Regions from separate parts of the Homo sapiens genome. Here regions 2 and 3 are each linked to region 1. Evidence: fine-mapped QTL for protein levels in blood plasma. Region 1 holds a variant in brackets. A gene starts in each other region. All regions are shown on their forward strands. Distances are between the middles of the regions.

Region 1 (8,203 bases):
TCTGCAGTCAGGGCCTGCCAAGTATGGGGCAGGGTCGCTGGGGCCCAGCAGTGCTCCAGCAGGGGGTGGGCTGGGTGGGAGCATGGCCCTGGGAGCCCCACCCACCAGCTCCATCAACTCCCTCCCCTCCGCCAACTGGCCCTGGCCACGGACGGCCTGGGAGATGGAGGAGTGCAGTCCCTGGTGGACTCACCAGTCCCAGGGACACAGGACCAAGAGAGTCAAAACTAAAACCAAACCCTGTCTCCTTACCCCTCAGAGCCTTGTCCTTAGGATAAGCTATCTCAGGGGAAAAAAAGAGACTGTGTTTTCTTTCCTCCATTTTTTAAGAGACCAAGTCTTGGCCGGGCGTGGTGGCTCACGCCTGTAATCCAAGCACTTTGGGAGGCCGAGGCGGGTGGATCATGAGGTCAGGAGATCGAGACCCTCCTGGCTAACACAGTGAAACCCCGTCTCTACCAAAAAATACAAAAATTAGGCGGGCGTGATGGCGGGCGCCTGTAGTCCCAGCTACTCGGGAGGCTGAGGCAGGAGAATGGCGTGAACCCAGGAGATGGAGCTTGCAGTGAGCCGAGATCGCGCCACTGCACTCCAACCTGGGCGAAAGAGCGAGACTCTGTCTCAAAAAAAAAAAAAAAAAAAAAAGACCAAGTCTTGCTCTGTCACCCAGGCTGGCGTGCAGGGCTGCAATCATGACTCACTGCAGCCTTGAATTCTTGGGCTCAAGCGATCCTCCCCGCTCATTTTCCGGAGTAGCTGGGACCACGGGCATAAGCAACTGCACCTGCCTACAACCAAATTTTAATCACCTGGTCTTGGCCGGGCGCGGTGGCTCACACCTGTAACACCAACACTTTGGGAGGCAGAGTTAGGTGGGTCACTTGAGGCCAGGAGCTCAAGACCAGCCTGGCCAACACGGTGAAACCCCATCTCCACTAAAAATACCAAAAAAAAAAAAAAAATTAGCCAGGTACTTTGGTGGGTGACTGTAATCCCAGCTACTAAGGAGGCCGAGGCAGGAGAATCACTTGAACCCAGGAGGCGGAGGTTGCCATGAGCCAAGATTGCGCCAGTGCACTCCAGTCTGAGTGACAGGGTGAGACTCTGTCTCCAAAGAAACCGTAATCACCTGGTCTCTAGTCTTTGGCTTTGACGCTGAACTGTCTGAGCTGACCCTGGTAGAAGGCACCAGAACAGGCCCACTGGAGGTCCGGGGCACTTGCTTTAAGAATAAGTTCAGCTGGGCACAGTGGCTCACGCCTGTAACCCCAGCACTTTGGGATGCTAAGGCGGGCGGATCACGAGGTCAGGAGATCCAGACCATCCTGGCTAACACGGTGAAACCCCGTCTCTACTAAAAAATACACAAAAAATTAGCCGGGTGTGGTGGCGGGCACCTGTAGTCCCAGCTACTGGGGAGGCTGAGGCAGGAGAATGGTGTGAACCCGGGAGGTGGAGCTTGCGGTGAGCCGAGATCACGCCACTGCACTCCAGCCTGGGCGACAGAGGCTCCATCTCAAAAAAAAAAAAAAAAAAAAAAAAAAAGAACAAGTTCGCTGCCCCTAAGGGGTCTTGCCAGTTCTAATCACATTTGTAAGTTTGGTCGCTGTCTTCCCCCTGTTGCAAGATTCTCACAGGGAATGCCCCAATGCTGAGCTGCCCAGGACAGTGTAGCCGCTGGTGGCTGTCTGAATTTTTTTTTTTTTTTTTTGAGACAGAGTTTTGCTCTTGTTGCCCAGGCTGGAATGCAATAGTGCAATCTCGGCTCACCGCAACCTCTGCCTCCCAGGTTCAAGCAATTCTCCCGCCTCAGTAATCCCGAGTAGCTGGGATTACAGGCATAAGCCACCACACCTGGCTAATTTTTTTTTGTATTTTTAGTAGACACGGGGTTTCTCCATGTTGGTCAGGCTGGTCTCAAACTCCTGACCTCAGGTGATCCGCCCACCTCGGCCTCCCAAAGTGCTGGGATTACAGGCGTGAGCCCACCGTGCCCGGCCTGAATTTTTTTATTTTAATTTTTAGATACAGGGTCTCACTCTGTTGCCCAGGCTGGAGTGCAGTGATGCGATCACAGCTCACTGCAGCCTCAATCTCCTGGGCTCAAGCGATCCTCCCACAGGTTAGACCACTGGTGTGTGCGACCATGCCCAGGGATTTTATTTTTTTTGTGGAGACAGGGGTCTCAATATTGCCCAGGCTGGTTTTGAACTCCAGGGCTCAAGTGATCCTCCTTCCTTGGCCTCCAAAAGTGTTGGGATGACAGGCATGAGACACTGTACCCAGCCAATAAAATGTTCCATTCTGTTCCTTGGCCACAGCAGCTCTACTTCAAGTGCTCAATACTCACAGGTGGCCGGGCACAGTGGCTCACGACTATAATCCCAGCATTTTGGGAGGCTGAGGTGGGCGGATCACCCGAGGTCAGGAGTTTGAGACTAGCCCGGCCAACATGGTAAAACCTCGTCTCTACTAAAAATACAAAAATTAGCCGTGTGTGGTGGCACGTGCCTGCAATCCCAGTTACTTGGGAGGCTGAGGCATGAGAATCACTTGAACCTGGGAGGTGGAAATTGCAGTGAGCTGAGATCGTTCCATTGCACTCCAGCCTGGGTTGACAGAGCCAGACTCTGTCTCAAAAAAAGAAAGAAAAAAAAAAACCTCGCAGGGGTAGTGGGGCAGGATAGAAGTGCTGACCTCAAGAACCCAGGTGGGCCTGTGGACAGGACTTTCCACCCCTGCCAGCGCCCACAGCAGACATCACCAGTTGCTCACAGCACTTCCCCCTAGGCCCTGCAGCAGCCTGGGGAAGAGGCTGATGACACCAGGCACACAGGTAAGGAGCTGACACGCTTCAGGCCTTTGGTTAGCTTCGCTGACTGTCCCTACAGCGGGAGGGCAGGTGGCACCGCCAAGAGCCTGCCCACCTCGGAAGCTGACTCCTTGTGCCACCAGGCAGGCAGGACGGCCTAGGTTGGGGGATCAGGGTGGCCAACAGGCTGTTTCCTGTCCTGCAACCACTGGTACCAACCTCCCAGGCTTGGTGGGAAGAAGCCAGGGCTGGAAGGTGTCTTGGTAACCGCTGGAGGCTTTGGCACAGGGGACACGGGCTGGGGCTGGACCTGGGTTCCAACCCTGTCTCCTTCCTGAGCAGCTACAGGCTCCAGCGAATTTCCTGTGCCTCTCCCATCCCAGAGTCTTCCGAAGACCTCTGGGAGGAAAAGCACCCTCTATGTTCCATTAGAATTGAGTTCCAGACAGGCCAGACCCTTCCTAAGGGGCTCAGGGTGGGAGATGACTCTTCGGAGAGGCCGCAGGAACGGCTCAAGGGAGCCCGTGGGGGAGGCAGCTGTGGCCGCCCTGCGTGACGCACGGACTCACTTTCACCTCCTCCGTGACCTGGAAGTCCTCGTGGACAACGTTCTCTACCTCCACCATGAGCACCTCAGCCGGGAGCTCAGGGGTGGGCTCCATCGCCAGCTCCGCCGGGTGCCTGGCGCTCAGCTCGTCCTCCGCCTCCTTCTTGCCC[C/T]GCTTTGACTTCCTGCGGGGCTTGTGCTTGTTCTCCGCCTCCGGCTCCTCGGGCTCCACCTCCAGCTGTCTGCTGATATGGACTCTGACACGGGAGCAAGGCAGGTGTGAATCAGCCGCTGAGGCTGGGAGCTGGACCCGGCTGAGGCCTCCCTGGTGGCACAGGTGGTCCAAGGGTCCCGCTGAGCCCAGACCTCTGGAGCCACAGGGTGGCTACAGGGTCCTCAAGCTGGAGACGTGAGCCGCTTTCTCGGGGCCTCCCAACCAGTGTCCCCTCCACCCCTTAGACTCCAGCCAGATTCAGGCATTCCCTGCATCCCACGCCAATGCATCACTGTCCCCATCCTAAGTATCGTGGATAAGCTGCAGTGACAAGCCCCAGGGCCTCCTGTCGAAAACGGTGTCAGCCTGGCCGGGCACAGGCTGGTCTCCAAGACTCTGTGCCCTGGACTCAGCTCATAGCAGCTCCTTCCTGTTGTTCAGGTCTCGATTTCAAGGACACCATCGCAAAGACTGTCCCCAAGCACTTCACAAAAGCTACCCACCTCCACCTCTCACGCTGTCTGCGTCTCCCCTCAGAGCACCTGGCACCACCTGAACTCAGGGTCTCGCTCTGTTGCCCAGGCTGGAGTGCAGTGGTGTGATCATAGCTCACTGCAGCCTTTACCTCCTGGGCTCAAGCAATCCTCCTGCCTCAGCCTCCCAAGTAGCTGGGACTACAGGAACACGCCGTCACATCTAACTTTTTATTATTTTTTATAGAAACAGGGTCTTGCTGTGTTGCCCAGGCTGGTCTCAAACTCCTGGGCTTAAGCGATCCTCCCACCTCAGCCTCTTGCGTAGCTGTGACCACAGGCATGAGCCACCACATCCAGCTAATTTTTCTACATTTTTTGCAGAGATGGGATCTCGCTACGTTGCCCAGGCTGGACTCAAACTCCGGGCTCAAGCGATCCAATTGCCTTGACATCCCAAAGTGCTGGAATTCCAGGCAGGAGTCACCATGCCTGGCCCTGCAGCTCACCCCTTTCTGAGACAGGAGGGGTCCAGAGGTGACATGTCTCACTCTCACCCCCAGCTCTGGCCTCAGTGCTAGTGAGAAAGCCGCTGGGCTGACGGACAGGGCAGAGGCTGATGCTGGGGCATAAGGCATCCTGGCTGGTCTCCCGCGTGGTACTCTGCCCCCACCTCCCACTGTCCCCCGCCAGCCACCCACCTTCTGTGTCCCATGACGATCATGCGCAGCTTGTCCCCAAGGTCCTGCATCTCATGGATCTGGGCAAACGTCCCCGTGTGGTAGATTTCATCCAGGCTCTCGACCACATCCGACTCATTGCTGTGGGAGAAGAGCACAGAGGAATGTTGGAACATGGCTTTCATGCTAGGCAGGATGTCTCTGGCTGAGATGGAGGAGGGAGAGAAAAGAAACGCCCCTACCAAATGCTACTGAAAACCAAGAGCGGCCTCCTTGGCTCCCGCAGGAGCTCCAGAGCCTAGGGGAGCTTCTGCCAGGCCAGGGCTGCCCCAGTGGTCACAGGACCGGGTGGGTGGCTCCTCGCTAAGTCAGCCACAAAGACATGGTCCAGGTGGGACTTTGATGAGTCTCTTCTATGCTATCACAGAGCCTGCTTCGAATGCATGCATGGAACTCTTTTTTTCTTGAGATGGAGTTTCGCTCTTGTTGCCCAGGCTGGAGAGCAATGGTGTAATCTCAGCTCACTGCAACCTCCACTTACTAGGTTCAACCGATTCTCCTTCCTCAGCCTCCTGAGTAGCTGGGATTACAGGTACCTGCCACCACGCCTGGCTAATGTTTTGTATTTTTAGTAAAGACGAGGTTTCATCATGTCAGCCAGACTGCTTTGGAACTCCTGACCTCAGGTGATCCACATGCCTCAGCCTCCCAAAGTGCTGGGATTACAGGTGTGCGACCCCACGCCCGGCCCATGGAACTCATTTCTACATGGAGCCACATCTCCGAGCAGCTAGCTCGACTTTCAGGTAGCCTCATGGAGCATTTCATCACTAAGAGTCCCTGAAGTTAATTTCCCCCGTATCTTAACAATGCATGAAGTTTAGTACTACAAGCTGAGTTCTCAGCCCAGGCTGAAAAGGTAGCCTGCGTGGCTTCTGGCCTTTATTCTGGAGGTCTTCCCTGGTTTCCTCGGGGTCAGGGGTCAAAGGTGCAAAGTACAGAGTAGGACTTGTGGTGAGCTGGACTCTAGGGCACCGTCAACAAGGGAATGAAGGAAAAATCACACTTACCTGTCATCTCTCTTTAGAAAGACGCCGACATAAGGCTGGGCGAGACGAACTTTCCTTCTCAGCAGCTCAACCAACTTCTTATTTTTAACCTAGCATGACAATGACCCCAAAGTGAAATGCAGAGTAGATTTTTTTTTTGAGACAGAGTCTCATTCTGTTGCCCTGGCTGGAATGTAATGGCGTGATCTCAGCTCACTGCAACCTCCACCCCCACTGAGTTCAAGGGATTCTCCTGCCTCAGCCTCCTGAGTAGCTGGGATTACAGGCATGCACCACCACACCTGGCTAATTTTTTTATTTTTAGTAGAGATGGGGTTTCACCATATTGGCCAGGTTGGTCTCGAACTCCTGACCTCAGGTGATCCACCCACCTCAGCCTCCCAAAATGCCGGGATTATAGGCGTGAGCCACCAAACGCAGCACAGGGTAGCTTTTCTTTTTTTTTTTTTTTTCTGAGACGGAGTCTCGCTCTGTCACCCAGGCTGGAGTGCAGTGGCATGATCTCAGCTCACTGCAACCTCCGCCTCCCGGGATCAAGCAATTCTCTGCCTCAGCCTCCTGAGTAGCTGGGATTACAGGCGCCCGCCACCAGGTCCGGCTGATTGTTTTGTATTTTTAGTAGAGATGGGGTTTCACCATCTTGGCCAGGATGGTCTTTAACTCCTGACCTCGTGATCCACCCACCTCAGCCTCCCAAAGTGCTGGGATTATAGGCGTAAACTACCACGCCCGGCCTCCCAGGGTAGCTTTTGTAGCTGACATTTTTTGACAGCAGAGCCGCTCTAACGCTGTGTAGATTATTCTCTGGGGACATGCTGATCCGCATCCTGGATACTAATCAACATGGTTTGGGAACGCCTAAACAAAAAAAAAAAAAAAAAAAAAAAAGTGCTGGAGGCCAGGAGGCTGTGGTGGTGAATACAGTGAGCAGAACTGACCAGCTGGATTCTTCTTAGCGGTTTCCCCACTCCCAAAGGAAATTCAAAGTAGACGAATGGTCAGAACCCAGAAATTGATTTAACATCCAGCTTCAAAGGGGATGTCCAGGGCAAACTGTCTTGGTTTGAAAATCAAAACCATTCTGCTTTTATTAATGTCAGAATAAACATAAGTAATTTAAATGTGACCCACTCCAGAGATTGATAACTTCCTTTTTTTTTTTTTTTTAATAAAGTTTCAGGCTGGGCGCGGTGGCTCACGCCTGTAATCCCAGCACTTTGGGAGGCCGAGGCGGGCAGATCACAAGGTCAGGAGATCGAGACCATCCTGGCTAACACGGTGAAACCCCGTCTCTACTAAAAATACAAAAATTAGCCGGGCGTGGTGGCGGGCACCTGTAGTCCCAGCTACTCGGGAGGCTGAGGCAGGAGAATGGCGTGAACCCGGGAGGCGGAGCATGCAGTGAGCCAAGATCACGCCACTGCACTCCAGCCTGGGCGACAGAGTGAGACTCTGTCTCATAAAAAAAAAAAAAAAAAAAAAAAAAAAAAAAAAAAAGAAAGTTTCACTCTGCCACCCAGGCTGGAGTGCACTGGTGCAATCTCGGCTCACTGCAACCTCCACCTCCCAGGTTCAAGCGATTCTTCCAACTCATCCTACCACATAGCTGGGGTTACAAGCACACGCCACTGCACTCGCTAATTTTTGTATTATTAGTAGAGACGGAGTTTCGCCATGAGCCACCATGCCTGGTTCCTCCAATTTTCATTGACAGTTACTTCCTTATCACATCATATGCTGTTCATTAATGATCAAGACCCCCAGGATCACAGCACATTCTCAACGGCAGGTTCAGGGCTAATGATGTCTTCTAAGAAGCATTTGAAGGCGCAAGGAGCTCACCTGATTTCTTTCAAGCCTTTGTTAATTCACTGGACAGACCCTGATTAAAGGTAATGGCCTGGCTAGCCTGGTAATGGTAGCTCATGCCTGTAATCCCAGCACTTTGCGGGGCTGAGGTGGGAGGATCGCTTGAGCCCAGGAGTTTGAGACCAGCCTGGGTAACACAGTGAGACCCCATCTCTATTTTCTTTTTGAAGTTTTTAATTCTTTATTATATAATAAAGTTAAAATATACATATATATATATATATATATATATATATATATATATATATAGTAATGGCCCTCAAACTTTTGCAGGCACCAGGATGACCTGAAGGACTTTAAGCAGCTCACTGCTGGGCCCCACCCTTGGAGTTTTTGATTCAGTTCTAGGGTGGGTCCAAAAATCTGCATTTCAAACAAAAGAGCATCACATGATGCCGATGCTGCTGGTCCACAACCATCCTTTGAGAGCCAGTGTTTTGACTCACTCCCTAACACAGGCTCTTAACTTGTGGTCCAGAAATTCCTGACACTATAGATACATAATTTTTTTTTTTTCTGTTCCCAGAAAAAAAAAAGTCAG
Region 2 (8,180 bases), not on the chromosome of region 1:
TAGCCAGGCATGATGGTGTGTACCTGTAATCCCAGCTACTCCGGAGGCTGAGGTACAAGAGTTGCTTGAACTCAGGAGGCTGAGGTTACAGTGAGCCTAGACCACACCACTGCACTCCAGCCTGGCGACAGAGTGAGACTCAGTCTCAAAAAAAAAAAAAAAAAAGTGTGGTGTGGCAAGCCCAAGGCTGGGCCCCAAACTGCTGTGCTTAGTACATCAACTGAACAGCATGGGGCTTTTACAAGGGCAGCGTGCAAGTGGCTGTTGGGTTTTCCCATCCTGTTGTCACCTGTCGTCACCAGGATGGGGAGCAGGTGGTGGTGACCACATGGAGCAGTCACACCTGAGAGACGAAGGAAGCCGTGGCGTGAATCCAGCCACCCTTTTCTCCCTCAGCCTTTTTTTTTTTTTTTTTAGACAGGGTCTTGCTCTGTTGCCCAGGTTGGAGTGCAGTGGCACAACTGTAGCTTACTCGGCCTCCAGCTCCTGGGCTAAAGTGATCCTCTCTCTTCAGCCTCTCCAGTAGCTGGGACTATGCTGGCTAATTTTTTTTTTTTTAATTTTTTGTAGGGACCAGGTCTTGCTATATTGTCCAGGCTGGTCTTGAACTCCTGGGCTCAAATGATCCTCCCACATTGGCCTCCCAAAGTGCCGGGATTACAGGAGTAAGCCACCATGCCTGGCCTCCCTCAGCTTTCTAAACCGCCCTCTGGATGCATTTCTTTCCCTTCTTCCCTCCTTTCTTTCCCTTCTTCCCTCCTGATCACCACTTTGTCCTTGCTCTGTGGACAGATACTCCCTGCTGCAGGGAGCTCCTCCCCGCCCCCCGGCCCCTGCCCCATTCTCTCCTCCCCTGAACTGGCACCCTTCTCCTCTCCCAGGGCCAAACCCACCACCCCACTTAGGGAGGGCAGCTAGCCAAACAGACCTGCCTCTGCCCTCCCTGGGGATCCTGAGCTGAGAGCTGGGGGGTGGCCTCAGTTTTAGGGGACCAGGCAGATAAGGGGTAGCAATGAAGGAAGTACTTTCCAGGGAGAGGTGGGCAGCTCTGTGCTGCCCATCCCCTCAGGGAAGAAGGAAAGAGGGTTGGAATACAGCTCGTCAGACTGGATTTCCCACTCCAGGGCTACAGAGGAAAAAAGACAACAGTAATCAGGTGTCTGAAAGAAAAGTGTCCCTTAAGGAACCTGCATGCACATAGCATCCCTTAGCAGCAGCTAATTTTTGTTGCCTGCTGACTTCATGCCAAGCACTGTGTTAAGTGTTTTATATGTGTTTACTATCCTCAGGAACTTTATGAGATGACTATAAAATCTCCATTTTACTGATGAGGATACAAAAACTTAGAGGTCAGGTTAGTAATTCAAGGTCACATAGAAATATTCAAACTCGGCTGGGCATAGTGGCTCATGCTTATTATCCCAGCACTTTGGGAGGCCAAGGTAAGTGGATTGCTTGAGCCCAGGAGTTCAAGACCAGCCTGGGCTGGTAGAGACAAGAAACCTTGTCTCTACAAAAATACACAAATTATCCAGCACATGCCAGTAATCCCAGCTACTTGGGAGGCTGAGGTGGGAGGATAGCTTGAGCCGGGGAGGCCGAGGTTGCAGTGAGCCGTGATCATACCAGCACTCCAGCCTGAGTGACAGAGCGAGACCTTGTCTCAAAAAATAATAATAATACAATTTTAAAATGAAGTCATAGTCACAGTTACCAGCAGTTAGGACATGGACACATTTTTCTATTTTTTTAATAAAAAAATAAATATTTAAACTTAGTCCTGACCAATCCACCATGCCTCATTGCACATTCCCTATCTACACATAATGATGAGTTTTGTTTTGTTTTGTTTTGTTTTGTTTTTTGACGGAGTCCTGCTCTGTCACCCAGGCTGGAGTGCAGTGGCACAATCTCAGCTCACTGCAACCTCCACCTCCTGGGTTCAAGCGATTCTCCAGCCTCAATCTCCCGAGTAGCTGGGATTACAGGTGCATGCCACCATGCCCAGCTAATTTTTGCATTTTTTTAGTAGAGATGAGGTTTTGCCATGTTAGCCAGGCTGATCTTGAACCCCTGACCTCAGGTGATCCACCCACCCTGGCCTCCCAGAGTGCTGAGATTACAGGTGAGAGCCACCACACCTGGTCAATGATGAGTTTTAAGAGGCCATCTGGTGGGGCATGGTGGCTCATGCCTGTAATCCCAGCACTTTGGGAGGCCGAGTGAGCCAGGCGGATCACGAGATCAGGAGTTCGAGACCAGCCGGGCCAGCATGGTGAAACCCCGTCTCTACTAAAAATACAAAAATTAGTCGGGCATGGTGGTGCACGCCTGTAGTCCCAGCTACTCGGGAGGCTGAAGCAGGAGAATTACTTGAACCCAGGAGGCAGAGGTTGCAGTGAGCTGAAATCGTGCCATTGCACTCCAGCCTCGGCAACAGAGCGAGAGTCAATCTCAAAAAAAAAAAAAAAAAGGAGGTCTTCTGACCCAGGGCGGTACAGAGAAGAAGAAAGGGGTCCTATGTAGGTCCTATGTAGGACCCCCTACATAGGAATAGTACCCCAACTCATAGGCCCTATAGAAAGGCTTGTGTCTGCAAGCTCCTCAGCTGCCAGAAATGACCTCTTTCCTCTCTTCTCCCATGAATGTCCCCTCCCTGAAGCACCATCTCGGCCTATAGAAAACCAAGGAGGAGAAAGGGAAGACTGGCCTCAGCCTTTAGTGCCCATCTTTTTGGGAGAACAGGTGGCCCCTTTCTGGCCTTTCTCCCAGGGCCCCCATTCTGGATAGTTCACGGCAGCAGCAGGTAAGAGGAGCTTGCCAGCTGCTCCTCTCTCCACCCCAGGGCGGCTTGCCTCATTCTCTCCTCTACCCACCTCCTCTCCCAGAATCCAGGCCACCAGATGGCCCAAGCAGGCTGTGTTTATTTGGGGCCATGGAAACCTGCAGCTTCCTTTTCCTATTGCCTTGGGTCAGGTGCAGAGCTGGAGCCCAGCCTCAGAGCAATGATGTCATGGAAAGGTTCTGACTTTATTACTCATAACCCCTTAGCCCCCGACCTGAGTGAATGCCTGGTTTTGCTCCTCTGAGCAGCTTATTCCAGTTGCCATAGAGATGCGTCTATTCCCTTTGAGGTCTTGGGACTAAGTCAAACAGCGCGGGACCCAGGAGACTCTCCTCCCAACCCGAGATAGAGCCCGAGATATGTCAATTGTCACCCCTTTCTAGTCTGAGCTTATAAAGCCAGTGCTTAGAAAGTGGTTTATTCCTTCTTAAAGATTTGCTGTAGCCATAATGCGGAGATGGTAAAAGCTTGGTGTGATGACAATCTCCTGTTTCAATCAGCCAGCATCCCCGGGGGCACATTTTTCTAGATAATTATGCTTGTTCCTAAAAATAGAACTCTTCATTAAGAAACAATCGCTAGCATTACTAATAATTATGAACATTTATTTAGCTTTGTTTCCATTTACCACATAGCCTCTCAACACAGTAACTTAACTAAGGTTTAGCTGTTTTCAAACACTGCTTGCTCTACTGTGAACCTTTTTCAGAATTGGAACTTGTCTGTAGTTCATCCCTTACCAGCGCTATGAAAGGGTTCTAGTTAGCTGGCAGTTCTCTGAATTCTCTCCCTACCTCCCGAGGGACCCCCTCTCTCCTGGCTGGAAGAAAGCATCATCTTGCTCCATAAAGCTGAAGGGCGGGGGACGATGTTCCAGGTTTTGCAAACATTTCTTTCGGTGGCCTGCCTTCTCCTCCCATCTGGTATTTGTCCTGCAGAGCTGCTGGGTATAAGCCAGTACACACACGTGCTCAGCGGGGAATTTGCTCATAGGCTGCCTTGTAAAAAGAGCCTGGCGTTCCTAAAACTCAGCTCTACCAGAACCCAACTTTCAAAAGTACATTCCTACAGAATTCATTTTATCAGTACTCATGGGGTGCCCACGATGTGCCATGTTCTGGGTGCTGGGGATATACCAGTGAGCCGGTGCCCTCCTGGAGCTCACATTCCGGCTAGGAGACAGCAATTAGACAATTAGGACTGAGTGATTTTTGTAAAGGAAGAGAAAAAAGATAAATTAGAGCAGAGTAAAGGGGCTGGGAAGCGCGGGGCGGGAGATGCCCCAGGCTGGCCGGGCAGGCCTCGCTGCTGTTTGAATTGGGCAGTGGGCGGTCCAGGCGGAGGGCACGGACTCTGAAAGGAGAGAAGTGGTGTTTCTGGGGGCCACAAGATCGGGGCACTCTTCCGGTAGCAGCTCGCTCTCTGGCCACCGTCTTCCCCAGCCAACCAGGCCTCCCGGAGGCGGCCGGCCAGAAAGCATCGGCGGGACCCCAGTTTGCCGCCTCCCCTCGGCGGGACCTAGAAACTGCGCGGAACCAAAGCTCGAGGGCGGCTCGAGTTTGCGGACCGCGGGGAGGAAGCGCCCGCCGGAAGCAGTCGCAAGACCTGAGCATGGCGGCCACCAGGTGCCTGCGCTGGGGCCTGAGCCGAGCCGGAGTCTGGCTGCTCCCACCGCCCGCACGGTGCCCACGCCGGGCGCTGCACAAGCAGAAAGACGGCACTGAGTTCAAGAGCATCTACAGCCTGGACAAGCTCTACCCCGAATCTCAGGGCTCGGACACCGCCTGGAGGGTCCCGGTGAGCCGGGAAGGACTGGACGGAAGGGGCGTTTTGTCAGGCTGCTGGGTGACGTTAGGAACCCCAGGCCCATTGGCCGGATGTGGAGCTACGTCGGGGGGCTACGTGATGGTCGCCGCGGGAGGGGGCTGGCTGTCTGCGCTAACCTGGCCGGGAGTGGGGTGCTCGCTGTAGCGCGAGATGTGCAGGAGCCCGGAAGGCCGGCTGGGTATGCTTCTTTCAAGGCTGCCAGCTTTTCTACGTTCGTGTCCTTGGCCCTCAAGACCAAATTCCAGTCCCAAGGGGAAATACGGGCATTCTGGCCCTCCAAGGCGGACAATAAAGGCAAGAGGCTGCCAAGTTGTTTGCTACCCTTTGGGACGTTACAGTGTCCATTGTCTCTAGTAACCCCAGGACGCGCGAATAAAACAGCTTCTCTGTCGTTCCTTCAGGATGCATTTATTTAGCCAGCTGTGTGCAGGCATTGAATCAAGCCCCGGAGCAAGAGAGATAAGACCCACCCAAACCCATTGAGCTTCCACTTACAGGACTGGAAAAGAATATCCATTCATTTGTTCATTAATTCACTCACTCACTCAACAAAAGCTGTGCTAGGCTAGGGGATGGAGTAGCAAACAAAATTGAAATTCTAAAGCTTGTGGAGCTTATGTTCTAGTGGAGGGAGACAAGCAGTAAGTAAATGACTAATATAGAATGTGTGAGGTAGTACTTTGCAGAAAATAAAGCCAAGAAGGAAGAAGTAGTGCCAGAGGTAGGAAGTAGGGTTGCAATTTTAAGTAGGATTGTCTAGGAACGCTGTCAATGAGGTGGCATTTGAATAACGACCTGGAAGAAGCCAGACAGCAAGTCATGAGAATAGGGGGCGGATGAGCATCCTAGGCAGAGGGAAGAGAAAGTGCAATAACCTGAAGGCAGTAGCAATCCCCAGGTGTGGCTCAGCAGGGGTCAGGAGACAAAGCCAAAGAGAGGGATGGCTGGGGAAAGGCCTGTTACTAGGACTTAATGGCCTCCAGCCTTTCCTCTGAACGCAAGGGAGACCTATTGGAGAGCTTGAAGCAGAATGGAATTATCTTAGTTTTACAAGGATCACTCAGAGAGCCTTACAGAGAACAGATAGAGGATGCCAAGATCAGGGAGACAAGTAAGGAGATTGCAATGTAGGGCAAGAGATGATAAGCAGGGTGGAAGCAGTAGGAGTCATGAGAATTGGTCAGATCCTAGACGTATTTTGGAAAGAAAGCCTGCAAGATTTGCTAATTGATTGGATGTGAGAAGTGAGAATAAAAGAGGAATTGAAGTCTGGGGCCTTTTTTTTTTTTTTTTTTTTTTTTGAGACGGAGTCTCACTCTGTCGCCCAGGCTGGAGTGCAGTGATGCAATCTCTGTTCACTGCAAGCTCCGCCTCCCGGGTTCACGCCATTCTCCTGCCTCAGTCTCCTGAGTAGCTGGGACTACAGGCGCCCACCACTACAACCGGCTAATTTTTTTTTTTTTTTTTTTTAGTAGAGAGGGGGTTTCACCGTATTAGCCAGGTTGGTCTTGATCACGGGCGTGAGCCACCGCGCCAGGCTTTTTTTTTTTTTTTTTTTTGAGACAGGGTCTTACTCTGTCATCCAGGCTGGAGTGCAGTGGCGTGATCTCAGCCCACTGCAACCTCCGCCTCCTGGGTTCAAGTGATTCTTGTGCCTCAGCCTCCCGAGTAGCTGGGATTACAGGCATGCACCACCATGCCCGACTCATATTTTTGCATTTTTAGTAGAGACAGGGTTTTCACCATGTTGGCCAGGCTAGTCTCAAACTCCTGACCTCAAATGATCTGCTCGCCTCAGCCTCCCAAAGTGCTGGGATTACAGGCGTGAGCCACCATGCCCAGCCAAGTCTGGGGCCTTGAGCAGTGAAAGGATTGAGTTGCTATTAACTGAGATGAGAGAGTGGCAATAGCATTCATTTGTTCATTCATTCAATAAAATGTTTATTGTATATCTACTGTGTCTACTACTACTTGAGTCTAGCATATACAGCCATGATAAACAAAATACAGGATCTCTCTCCTTCATGGAGCTTAATTCTAATGGAAGGAGCAGACAGTAAACAAATAGGGAAAATATCAGGTAGTGAGAAGTAGTGTAATGAATAGGCCAGGGTGCTGCAACAAAGTGCTGAGGCTACCTCAGATTATTAGTAAGGGAAGTCCTCTGAGGCGGCTTAAGGTTTGGGTCCATTAGACATCTGAGAAGAGACGTTGAGTAGCAGTTGGGTATATGGGTGTGGAGTTGAGAAGAAAGGTTTGAGTTTGAGCCAGAAAGTTGGGTGTCAAAAACAGGCTATTTTCTGGCCAGGCGCAGTGGCTCATGCCTATAATCCCAGCACTTTGAGAGGCCAAGGGTAGATCACTTGAGGTCAGGAGTTCGAGACCAGCCTGGCCAACATGGCAAAACCCCGTCTCTACTAAAAATACAAAAATTAGTCGGGCGTGGTGGCACACGCCTGTAGTCCCAGCTACTCAGGAGGCTGAGGCAGGAGAATCGCTTGAACCCAGGAGGCAGAGGTTGCAGTGAGCCGAGATTGCACCACTGCACTCCAACCTGGGCGACAACCTTAAGACTCCATCTCAAAACAAAAACGAAAAACTGGCTATTTTCATCAGCATAGATGAAGTATTCTAGAGAAAGAAAGAGGAGAGAGAGAGAAGTATTTCAAGGGCATGTCAGTGTTTAAAAGTTGCTAAGAGCTAGCAAAGGAGAGTGAGAAAGAGTCCTAGGAAGGTAAGAGGAAAATTTCAGAAGGAACAGAAGGAACATGCTTCAGGAAGGAGGGTGTGGCCCATGATCTTCAGTGCTGCAGACAGGTGGAGTAGGATAAGGGTTTCATCCCCAAATAATTCTTTTTCTTTTTCTTTTTTCTTTTTTTCTGAGACAAAGTCTCGTTAGCTGTCACCCAGGCTGGAGTGCAGTGTCCCAGGCAGGAGTGCAGTGTCCTGATCTCAGCTCACTGCAACCTCCATCTCCTGGGTTCAAGCAATCCTGCCTCAGCCTCCCCCAGTAGCTAGGATTACAGGTGTGTGCCACCATGCCTAGCTAATTTTGTATTTTTAGTAGAGGGGAGGTTTCACCATGTTGTCCAGGCTGGTCTCCAACTCCTGACTTGAAGTGATCCACCCGTCTCGGCCTCCCAAAGTGCTGGGATTACGGCGTGAGCCACTGCACCCGGCCAACTCCCAAATAATTCTAAGATAAAAGAAATGAAGACAGGCTGGGCGTGGTGGCTCACGCCTGTAATCTTAGCACTTTGGGAGGCCAAGGCGGGCAGCTCTCTTGAGGTCAGGAGCTCGAAACCAGTCTGGCCAACATGGTGAAACCCCATCTCTACTAAAAATACAAAAAAAAAAAACAACAATAGCTAGGCATGGTGGCATGCGCCTGTAATCCCAGCTACTCAGGAGGCTGAGGCAGGAGAATCACTTGAACCCAAGAGGCGGAGGTTGCAGTGAGCTGAGATCGCACTATTGTACTCCAGCCTGGGCTACAGAGCGAGACTCC
Region 3 (8,200 bases), 7.2 Mb after region 1:
GCCCTATGGTCTGTGCCTGCTGGGGCTCCCCGCGCCCACCTGTCTGGGTCTTGGGGGGCTGGCTGGGCACAGGCAGGCATGGTGACGGGTGCCTGGAAGGGGGAGAGGAGTCTGTGAGTCCCTGCAGATTGAGGCTTCCGGTGTCTCCTCCCCCAGTGTGTCATTTCCAGGCAGTGGACCCCAGCCCAACGTTACAAGGACTGCTTCTCCCCGGCCCCCACCATCATCACCACAGTCTGTTTTGGCTATACTTCCCCCCCCACCAGCCTTGTAATTGGCTAATTACTGGAGATGAATGTTGGTAAACAGAAGCCTTCTTCTCTTCTGCCATCTGCTTCTCCATTATTTGCCCATTGTACACCCCCCTTTTCCTCCCACTGAAGCCCCAGTTAGTCAGCAGGGCCTAGAGTCCCTGTCCCCTTTTGAGTACAGCCAAGTGGGGGATTCCCCAGCTCTTAAGTATTGGGGGAGGAACCAGGGGACCCAGAGAGGCACACCTTGAGAGGACGCAGATCTCTTCAGGGGTACTGCCAGGTAGCAGGCTTTATTGGGAAGGGACAAAGCCTCAGGAGCTGGGTGCCCCAGAGGCTGCTGGGTCTTGAGCCACAGCTGCAGCCAATGCAGCAGCTCGCGCCTCCTTCTTCCGTTTCTGTTTTTCCTCCTTGAGGCGCTTGCGCTCCTTCTTCTCTAGGTCCTGGAGCAGCTCCTGGAAGCGGGCACTCCTTGGGTCCACCTGGTAGCCCAGGAGCTCCTGGGCCTCAGCCTGCAGTCGGGCCCTCCTCTCCTTGTCAGCCTGGGCCTTCTCCCAGTTCTCCCGCTGCTGCTGCTGCCAGTTCACAATCATCTGTGGCATCTTGGCCATGCACTCTGCGATGTGCTGCTCCCTGCAGGGGAGGGAGAGTGGGCTGTGACACTGGCACTCAGCCAGGGCAGAGCCCACCCACCCATATCTCACCCATAGGCCTTTGCCCACGAGCCTGCCTCCTCAACTCCCCCAGTAGATTAACTGTCAGGAAAAGCCCTTGACAAGTGAAGAAACAGGAAGAGATGATGAGAAAGTTACCTGTGCATGAATTTGATCACAAGGGCATGTCAAGCCCCAGTAAACCCCAGGTGCCAAAGCCAAATCAGCATTTCACTGAGCTGCCTACTGAGCAAGCCAAGTGCCACTCCCATGGATAATTTCACACCTTTATTTCATAGACATTGCTGAGCACTTCCTGTACAGAGGCCAGGCCCAATTCTAGGCACAGGAGTGAAAGCAAGAAAGACATTTCCCACCAATCCTTGAGTTTGTAGCTACCAGTCACAGCCCCATTTTTTTCTTTTAAGTTCAGGGGTACAAGTGCAGGTTTGTTACGTAGGTAAACTTGTGTCATGGGGTTTTTTTGTACAGATTTATTTCATCACTCAGGTATTAAACCTAGTACCTAGAGGTCATTTTTCCTGATCCTCTCCCTCCACCCTCCAAAAAGCCCTAGTGTGTGTTGCTCCCCTGTGTGTCCATGTGTTCTCATCATTTAGCTCCCACTTACAAGTGAGAACACGTTGTATTTGGTTTTCTGTTCCTGTGTTAGTTTGCTAGGGATGATAGCCTCCAGCTCCCGTCGTGTCCCTGCAAAGGACATGATCTCGTTCTTTTTTATGACAGCCTCATTTAAGGATTAGAAAAGTAAAAGAATTAAGCCCTATAATGGTCATCTGGCTGAGGAGGGGCAGAAACAGGAGTCCCTGCTCCATGATTCCCTGCCTGGGTGATCAGACGCATGACTTCACTTCACCAAGCCTCAGTTTCCTCATCTCTAAAATTAGGGCAATCCCTTCTTCCTCTTAAGGCTATTAGGAAAACAAGAAGATTAAACACCAGGAACACACTTGACCTACCCCCTTCACGCTCCAGGATGTGGCATTATCTATAAGAGATGCCCCTGGTCTGGCCCGACGCGGTGGCTCACGCCTGTAATCCTAGCACTTTGGGAGGCCGAGGCAGATGGATCACCTGAGGTCAGGAGTTTGAGACCAGCCTGGCCAATATGGCGAAACCCCATCTCTACTAAAAATACAAAAAATGAGCCGGGTGTGGTGGTGGGCGCTTGTAATCCCAGCTACTCGGGAGGCTGAAGCAGGAGAATCTCTTGATCCTGGGAGGCAGAGGTTGCAGTGAGCTGAGATTGCACTCCAGCCTGGGCAACAAGAGCAAAACTCTGCCTCAAAACAACAACAACAACAACAACAAAAAGATGCCCCTGGTCCTTCAGACCTGCCTCTGTATCTGACCTCTGCCCTCTTGGTTCCAGGACCCATCACCTTCCTGCCCTCACCTTTTCCCCAGCCACACTGGCTTCCTGGCTGTTCTTTAAGGCATATCGTATCTCAGGGCATTTGCCCCAGCTGTTCCCTTTACCAGAAACTTTCTACCCAAGAGATCGCCCCATAGCTAAGTCTGGTTATTCAGGTCTTTGCTTAAACATCACCTCCTCAGAGAGGCCTGAGGCTTCCCAAACCAAAGCTGCCCTCAGGCACACACTCTTCACTCTTTTACCTTCCTACTAGTCGGCTGTCACCATTGGTATTATCTTGCCTGTCAGCTGTCGCCATCTGATATTAAGGGCCCTTTTGGGGCCTGCCTCGGCCTCCCAAATAACTGGGATTACAGGCACGAGCCACCGCCCCCGGCCTGGGACAGGGTCTTGCACACGGTATGCGCTCAGTAAAGACTTGGTGGTGATGGCCGGACGTGATGGCTCACACCTGTAATCCCGGCACTTTGGGAGGCTGAGGCAGGTGGATCACTTGAAGTAAGGAGTTTGAGACCAGCCTGGCCAACATGGTGGAACCCCGTCTCTACTAAAACTACAAAAATTTGCCGGGCGTGGTGGTGCACGCCTGTAATCCCAGCTACACCGGAGGCTAAGGCGGGAGAATCGCTTGAACCGGGGAGGCGGAGGTTGCAGTGAGCCAAGATCTTGCGACTGCACTCCAGCCTGGGCAACAGAGCGAGACTCTTGTCTCCAAAAAACAAACAAACAAACAAACAAAACTTGCTGATGAATGACTAAATGGACGTTATTCTGAGTTTGTTTTGCGGCCAGGTGAGCGTATACATAAATCTACAACATGCAGATGCTGCGACGTGACCCCGAAGGGGTAGGCACGGTTTGGGGCCCAGTTCGCCCACGGGGCACAGAGGGCAGCCCCGCGTCTGCCTGCACGCACGCACCTCTCCCGACGCTTCTGCTCTTCGGCCAGCTGCTTCACCCGCAGCGACTCCTGCATGGTCGCCAGGCTCGGGTACCATTCGCGTTCTTCGGCCTCCAGCTCCCGCAGCTGCTCCGGCGACGGCCATAACGAACCGGGGACCACCCCGGAGGCGGCGCCGTAACGCGCGAACTGCTTAGCCGCGTAGCGCGGTCCCAGCTGCCACCGCGGGGTCAGGAGGTCCTCGGGGTCTGGCCACCGGGGTCCCGGCCTGCGGCGCGGGGGCGGCCGCGCCCGGTAGCCACGGGAACCCGGGGCCAGGGTCGCCGCCACACCTAGTAGGCTGCGTGCCTGTCGCACGGACGCCGCCATCTTGGCTGTGCGGGGTCCTCACAGGCCCGCCGGGCTGTCCATGCCCGGTGCCTGAGCGCGAGGCCCGGTGTGGGCCAGGGCAGGGCGAGGGGTGTCCCTGCTGCCTCAGTTCGGGGGAGGGCGGCGAAGGGGATAGTATGGGTTTTATACGTTTCCAAGTATAACTTTAAATTTTAGTTAAGCAGTTACTGATTAAAGTCATTTTTAATTTTCACTTTTTTTCTTCTCCTTTCTGCACACTGACACTTAAAAATACATATTTTTGTCGGGCGCGGTGGCTCACGCCTGTAATCTCAGCACTTTGGGAGGCCGAGGCGGGCGGATCACCTGAGGTCGCGAGTTCGAGACCAGTCTTTTTTTTTTTTTTTTTTCGAGACAGAGTCTCGCTCTGTCGCCCAGGCTGGAGGGTAACGGCGTGATCTCGGGTCACTGTAACCTCCGCCTTCCGGGAGGAGAGGAGAAACCCCGTCTCTACTAAAAATACAAAATTAGCCGGGCATGGTGGCGCATGCCTGTAGTCCCAGCTCCGCGGGAGGCTGAGGCAGGAGAATCGCTTGAACCCGGGAGGCGGAGGTTGGGGTGGGCCGAGATCGTGCCATTGCATTCCAGCCTGGGTAACAAGAGCGAAACTCCGTCTAAAAAATTAATAAATAAAAATAAATACATACATGCATACACACACACACACATATACATATATATATACGCTCACCTGGCTACAAATATATATTTGTGTATTTTTTTCTAAGTGTTCAGTGTTCTTTGGGTAAAAATTGTATTTTTGTTTTTTGCATATCAGAAACCATACTGTTTTATTCATCCATGTGTCTTCTGTGCACACAGTAGCCCTCCAATGAATAATCTGAAATCATGTTGAATGAACACATTGAAAAATCAAAAATAAGAGGCTGTGGCAGGGCCACTGATATGGTTTGGCTCTGTGTCCCCAACCAAATCTCATCCTGAATTATAATCCCCATGTGTCCAGGGAGGGACCTGTAATCCCCACATGTCGGGGAAGGGAGGTGGTTGGATCACGGGGGTGGTTTCCCCCATGCTATTCTTTTTTTTTTTTTTTTGCCTTCAAAAAGTTTATTTTATTTTATTTTATTATTATTATACTTTAAGTTTTAGGGTACTTGTGCACAACGTGCAGGTTTGTTACATATGTATACATGTGCCATGTTGGTGTGCTGCACCCATTAACTCGTCATTTAGCATTAGGTATATCTCCTAATGCTATCCCTCCCCCCTCCCCCCACCCCACAACAGTCCCCGGTGTGTGATGTTCCCTTTCCTGTGTCCATGTGGTCTCATTGTTCACTTCCCACCTATGAGTGAGAACATGCGGTGTTTGGTTTTTTGTCCTTGCGATAGTTTGCTGAGAATGATGGTTTCCAGTTTCATCCATGTCCCTACAAAGGACACGAACTCATCATTTTTTATGGCTGCGTAAAAATTATATTTTTAACTTTACTTTTATACATTTAAACTAGCATTTATTAGGCTGGGCTTGGTGGCTCACGCCTGTAATCCCAGTACTTTGGGAGGCTGAAGCGGGCGGATCACTTGAGGTCAGGAGTTGGAGACCAGCCTGACCAACATGGCAAAACCTTGTCTCTACTAAAAATACAAAAATTACCTGGGCGTGGTGGTGGGCGCCTGTAATCCCAACTACTCAGGAGGCTGAGGCAGGAGAATCGCTTGAACCTGGGAGGTGGAGGTTGCAATGAGCTGAGATCGTGCCATTGCACTCTACCCAGGGTGACAGAGTGAGACTCTGTCTGAACAAACAAACAGACAAAAAGCCCACTAGCATTTATTATTTTTTTAATGTAAATGTGGCTGAACGCGGTGGTTCACACCTGTAATCCCAGCACTTTGGGAGGCTGAGGCAGGTATCACTGAGGTCAGGAGTTCGAGACCAGCCTGGCCAACATGGTGAAACCCCGTCTTTACTAAAAATACAAAAATTGGCTGGGTGCGGTGGTGCACACCTGTAATCCCAACTACTCGAGAAGCTAAGGCAGGAGAATCGCTTGAACCCGGGAGGCGGAGGTTGCAGTGAGCTGAGATTACACCACTGCTCTCCAGCCTGGGCAACAGATCGAGACTCTGTCTCAAAATAAATAAATAAATAAATAAATAATTCTGTCACATGCTGTGACATGGATGAACCTTGAGGACATTAGGCTAAGTGAAAGAAGCCAGTCACAAAAGGACAAATATTGTATGATTCCACTTATATGAGGTAACTAGAGTAGTCAAATTCATAGAGACAGAAAGTAGATTAGGAGTTCCAGGGGTTGGGGGTGGAGGAGTGGGAGTTATTGCTTATAATGTATAATATATTTTATATTGTAAAATATACAAAATAAATAAAACGAATTTGTGTTTTGTTTTGTTTTGAGTCAGAGTCTCGCTCTGTCTCCCAGGTGAGAGTACAGTGATGCAATCTTGGCTCACTGCAACCTCTGCCTCCCAGATTCAAGGGATTTTCGAGCCTCTGCCTCCTAAGTAGCTGGGACCACAGGCGCAAGCCACCAAGCCTGGCTGATTTTCATATTTTACTAGAGACGGGGTTTCACCACGTTGGTAAGGCTGGTCTCAAACTCCTGACCTTAAGTGATCTGCCCACTTCAGCCTCCCAAAGTGCTAGGATTACAGGTGTGAGCCACCATGACTGGCCACGTTTTTTTTGTTTTTTTTTTTTTGTTTGTTTGTTTTTGAGATGGAGTTTAGCTCTGTTGCCCAGGCTGGAGTGCAGTGGTGCGATCTCCGCTCACTGCAAGCTCCGCCTCCGGGGTTCACGCCATTCTCCTGCCTCAGCCTCCCGAGTAGCTGGGACTACAGGCGCCCGCCACCACGCCCGGCTAATTTTTTTGCATTTTTAGTAGAGAGGGGGTTTCACCGTGTTAGCCAGGATGGTCTCGATCGCCTGACCTTGTGATCCACCCGCCTCGGCCTCCCAAAGTGCTGGGATTACAGGCATGAGCCACCGCGCCTGGCCTGTTGTTTTTGTTTTTAATCACACACGCACACCTTCTCTACCCCCGCAAAAAATAACTGCAGTTTTCTCAAGACATGAATGTTCATAGCAACACCACATATATATGTCATTACCAAGCTGGAAATAGCTCACACCCAATGTCCATCTGAAGTAGAATGGACACCTAAATTATGCTGTTTCAGCCAATGGAATACTACACAGGAATGAAAGAGCAAATATTACATCTTCTCACAGAAGATGGATGATGCTTATAAGCATAATGTGCAACAAAGGAAGAGGACCTATATGATTGCTTTTTAAATTTTATTTTTTTGAGACAGGGTATTGCTCTGTTGCCCAGGCTAGAGTGCCCTGGCTCGGTCATAGCTCACTGCAGCCTTGAATTCCTGGGCTCAAGCAATCCTCCCGCCTCAGTCTCTTCAGTAGCAAGACTATAGGCATGAACCGCTACTCCCACCTACATTTTAAATTTTTTTGTAGAGACGGGGTTTCTCTATGTTACCCAGGTTGGTCTTGAACTCCTGGCTCACCTCCCCTCCCCTCCCCTCCTTTCTTGACAGGGTCTCACTGTTGCCCAGGCTGGAGTACACTGGCATATCACTGCAGCCTCAATCTCCTGGTCTCAAGTGGTCCTCCCACCTCGGGCTCCTAAGTAGCTGGAACTTCAGGCACTCACCATCAAGCCTGGCTAATTTTTGTATTATTTGTAGAGATAGAGTCTCAATATGTTGCCCAGGGTGGTCCTGAATTCTGGGACCCAAGTTATCCTCCCACCTTGGCCTCCCAAAATGTTGGAATTACAGGTATGAGCTACCATGCCTGACCTCAGAATTTTTTCATCTTGCAAACCTGTAACTCTATACACTCACTCCCCAGTTTCCCTTTCGCCCAGTCCCTGGCAGTCACTATTCCTTTTTTTTTTTTTTTTTTGAGACGGATGGAGTCTCGCTCCGTTGCCCAGGCTGGAGTGCAGTGGCGCGATCTCGGCTCACTGCAAGCTCCGCCTCCCGGGTTCACGCCATTCTCCTGCCTCAGCCTCCCGAGTAGCTGGGACTCCAGGCACCCGCCACCACACCCGGCTAATTTGTTTGTATTTTTGGTAGAGACAGGGTTTCACCGTGTTAGCCAGGATGGTCTCGATCCCCTGACCTCGCGATCTGCCCGTCTCGGCCTCCCAAAGTGCTGGGATTACAGGCGTGAGCCACCGCGCCCGGCCTGGCAGTCACTATTCTACCTTGTTTCTATGAATTTGACTACTCTAGGTACCTCATATAAGTCGAATCATACGGTACTTGTCCTTTTGTAACTGGCTTATTTTTTATTTTGAGACAGAGTCTTGCTCTGTTGTCCAGGCTGAAGTGCAGTGGCACAATTATTATAACTGGCTGCAGAATCGACCTCCTGGACTCAAGTGATACTCCCACCTCAGCCTCTCAAGTAGCTGAAACTACAGGTGCTCACCTGGCTAATTTTTTTTTTTTTTTTTTTTTTGAGACAGGGTTTCGCTCTGTCGCCCAAGCTAGAGTGCAGGGGCGCCATCTCGGCTCACTACAAGCTCCGCCGCCCGGGTTCACGCCATTCTTCTGCCTCAGCCTCCCGAGTAGCTGGGACTACAGGCGC

Which allele goes with the higher level. Positions count from the first base shown, and alleles are read on the strand shown. Strength reflects both the effect of a copy and how common the allele is.
For the plasma level of the protein whose gene starts at base 4,440 in region 2, allele T in region 1 goes with a higher level than allele C (moderate association).
As copies of T replace C in region 1, the plasma level of the protein whose gene starts at base 3,581 in region 3 goes up (weak association).

The links. PIP is the chance, under the fine-mapping model, that this variant and not a neighbour inherited with it causes the effect. The UK Biobank Pharma Proteomics Project read protein levels with antibody pairs (Olink). The fine-mapping took linkage between variants from a reference panel, not from the people measured, so its PIPs are less certain.
Region 2: MRPL58 starts here. The variant in region 1 is fine-mapped to the plasma level of the MRPL58 protein (UK Biobank, PIP above 0.99).
Region 3: it holds the start of GADD45GIP1, and the variant in region 1 is fine-mapped to the plasma level of the GADD45GIP1 protein (UK Biobank, PIP above 0.99).

Annotation. Positions count from the first base shown.
Region 1 is chr19:5,708,390-5,716,592 of GRCh38, forward strand. It overlaps LONP1 (lon peptidase 1, mitochondrial), which reads right to left. Exons shown (of 18, transcript NM_004793.4): 2 at 5,794-5,882; 3 at 4,745-4,864; 4 at 3,382-3,613; 5 at 1-14. Among named protein-coding and RNA genes, the nearest start is that of LONP1, 7.7 kb to the right of the region's middle. The variant C/T (reference allele first, on the strand shown) is at 3,530.
Region 2 is chr17:75,008,231-75,016,410 of GRCh38, forward strand. It overlaps MRPL58 (mitochondrial ribosomal protein L58), which reads left to right and starts at 4,440. Exons shown (of 6, transcript NM_001545.3): 1 at 4,440-4,642. The coding sequence starts at 4,457. RefSeq lists enhancers at 4,068-4,217, 4,084-4,767, 4,308-4,617, 4,668-4,747, 4,768-5,450 and a silencer at 4,233-4,415.
Region 3 is chr19:12,953,643-12,961,842 of GRCh38, forward strand. GADD45GIP1 (GADD45G interacting protein 1) reads right to left here and starts at 3,581. Exons shown (of 2, transcript NM_052850.4): 1 at 3,221-3,581; 2 at 1-884. The coding sequence starts at 3,570. The coding sequence ends at 566. RefSeq lists enhancers at 1-64, 2,908-2,957, 3,057-3,929 and a silencer at 3,358-3,527.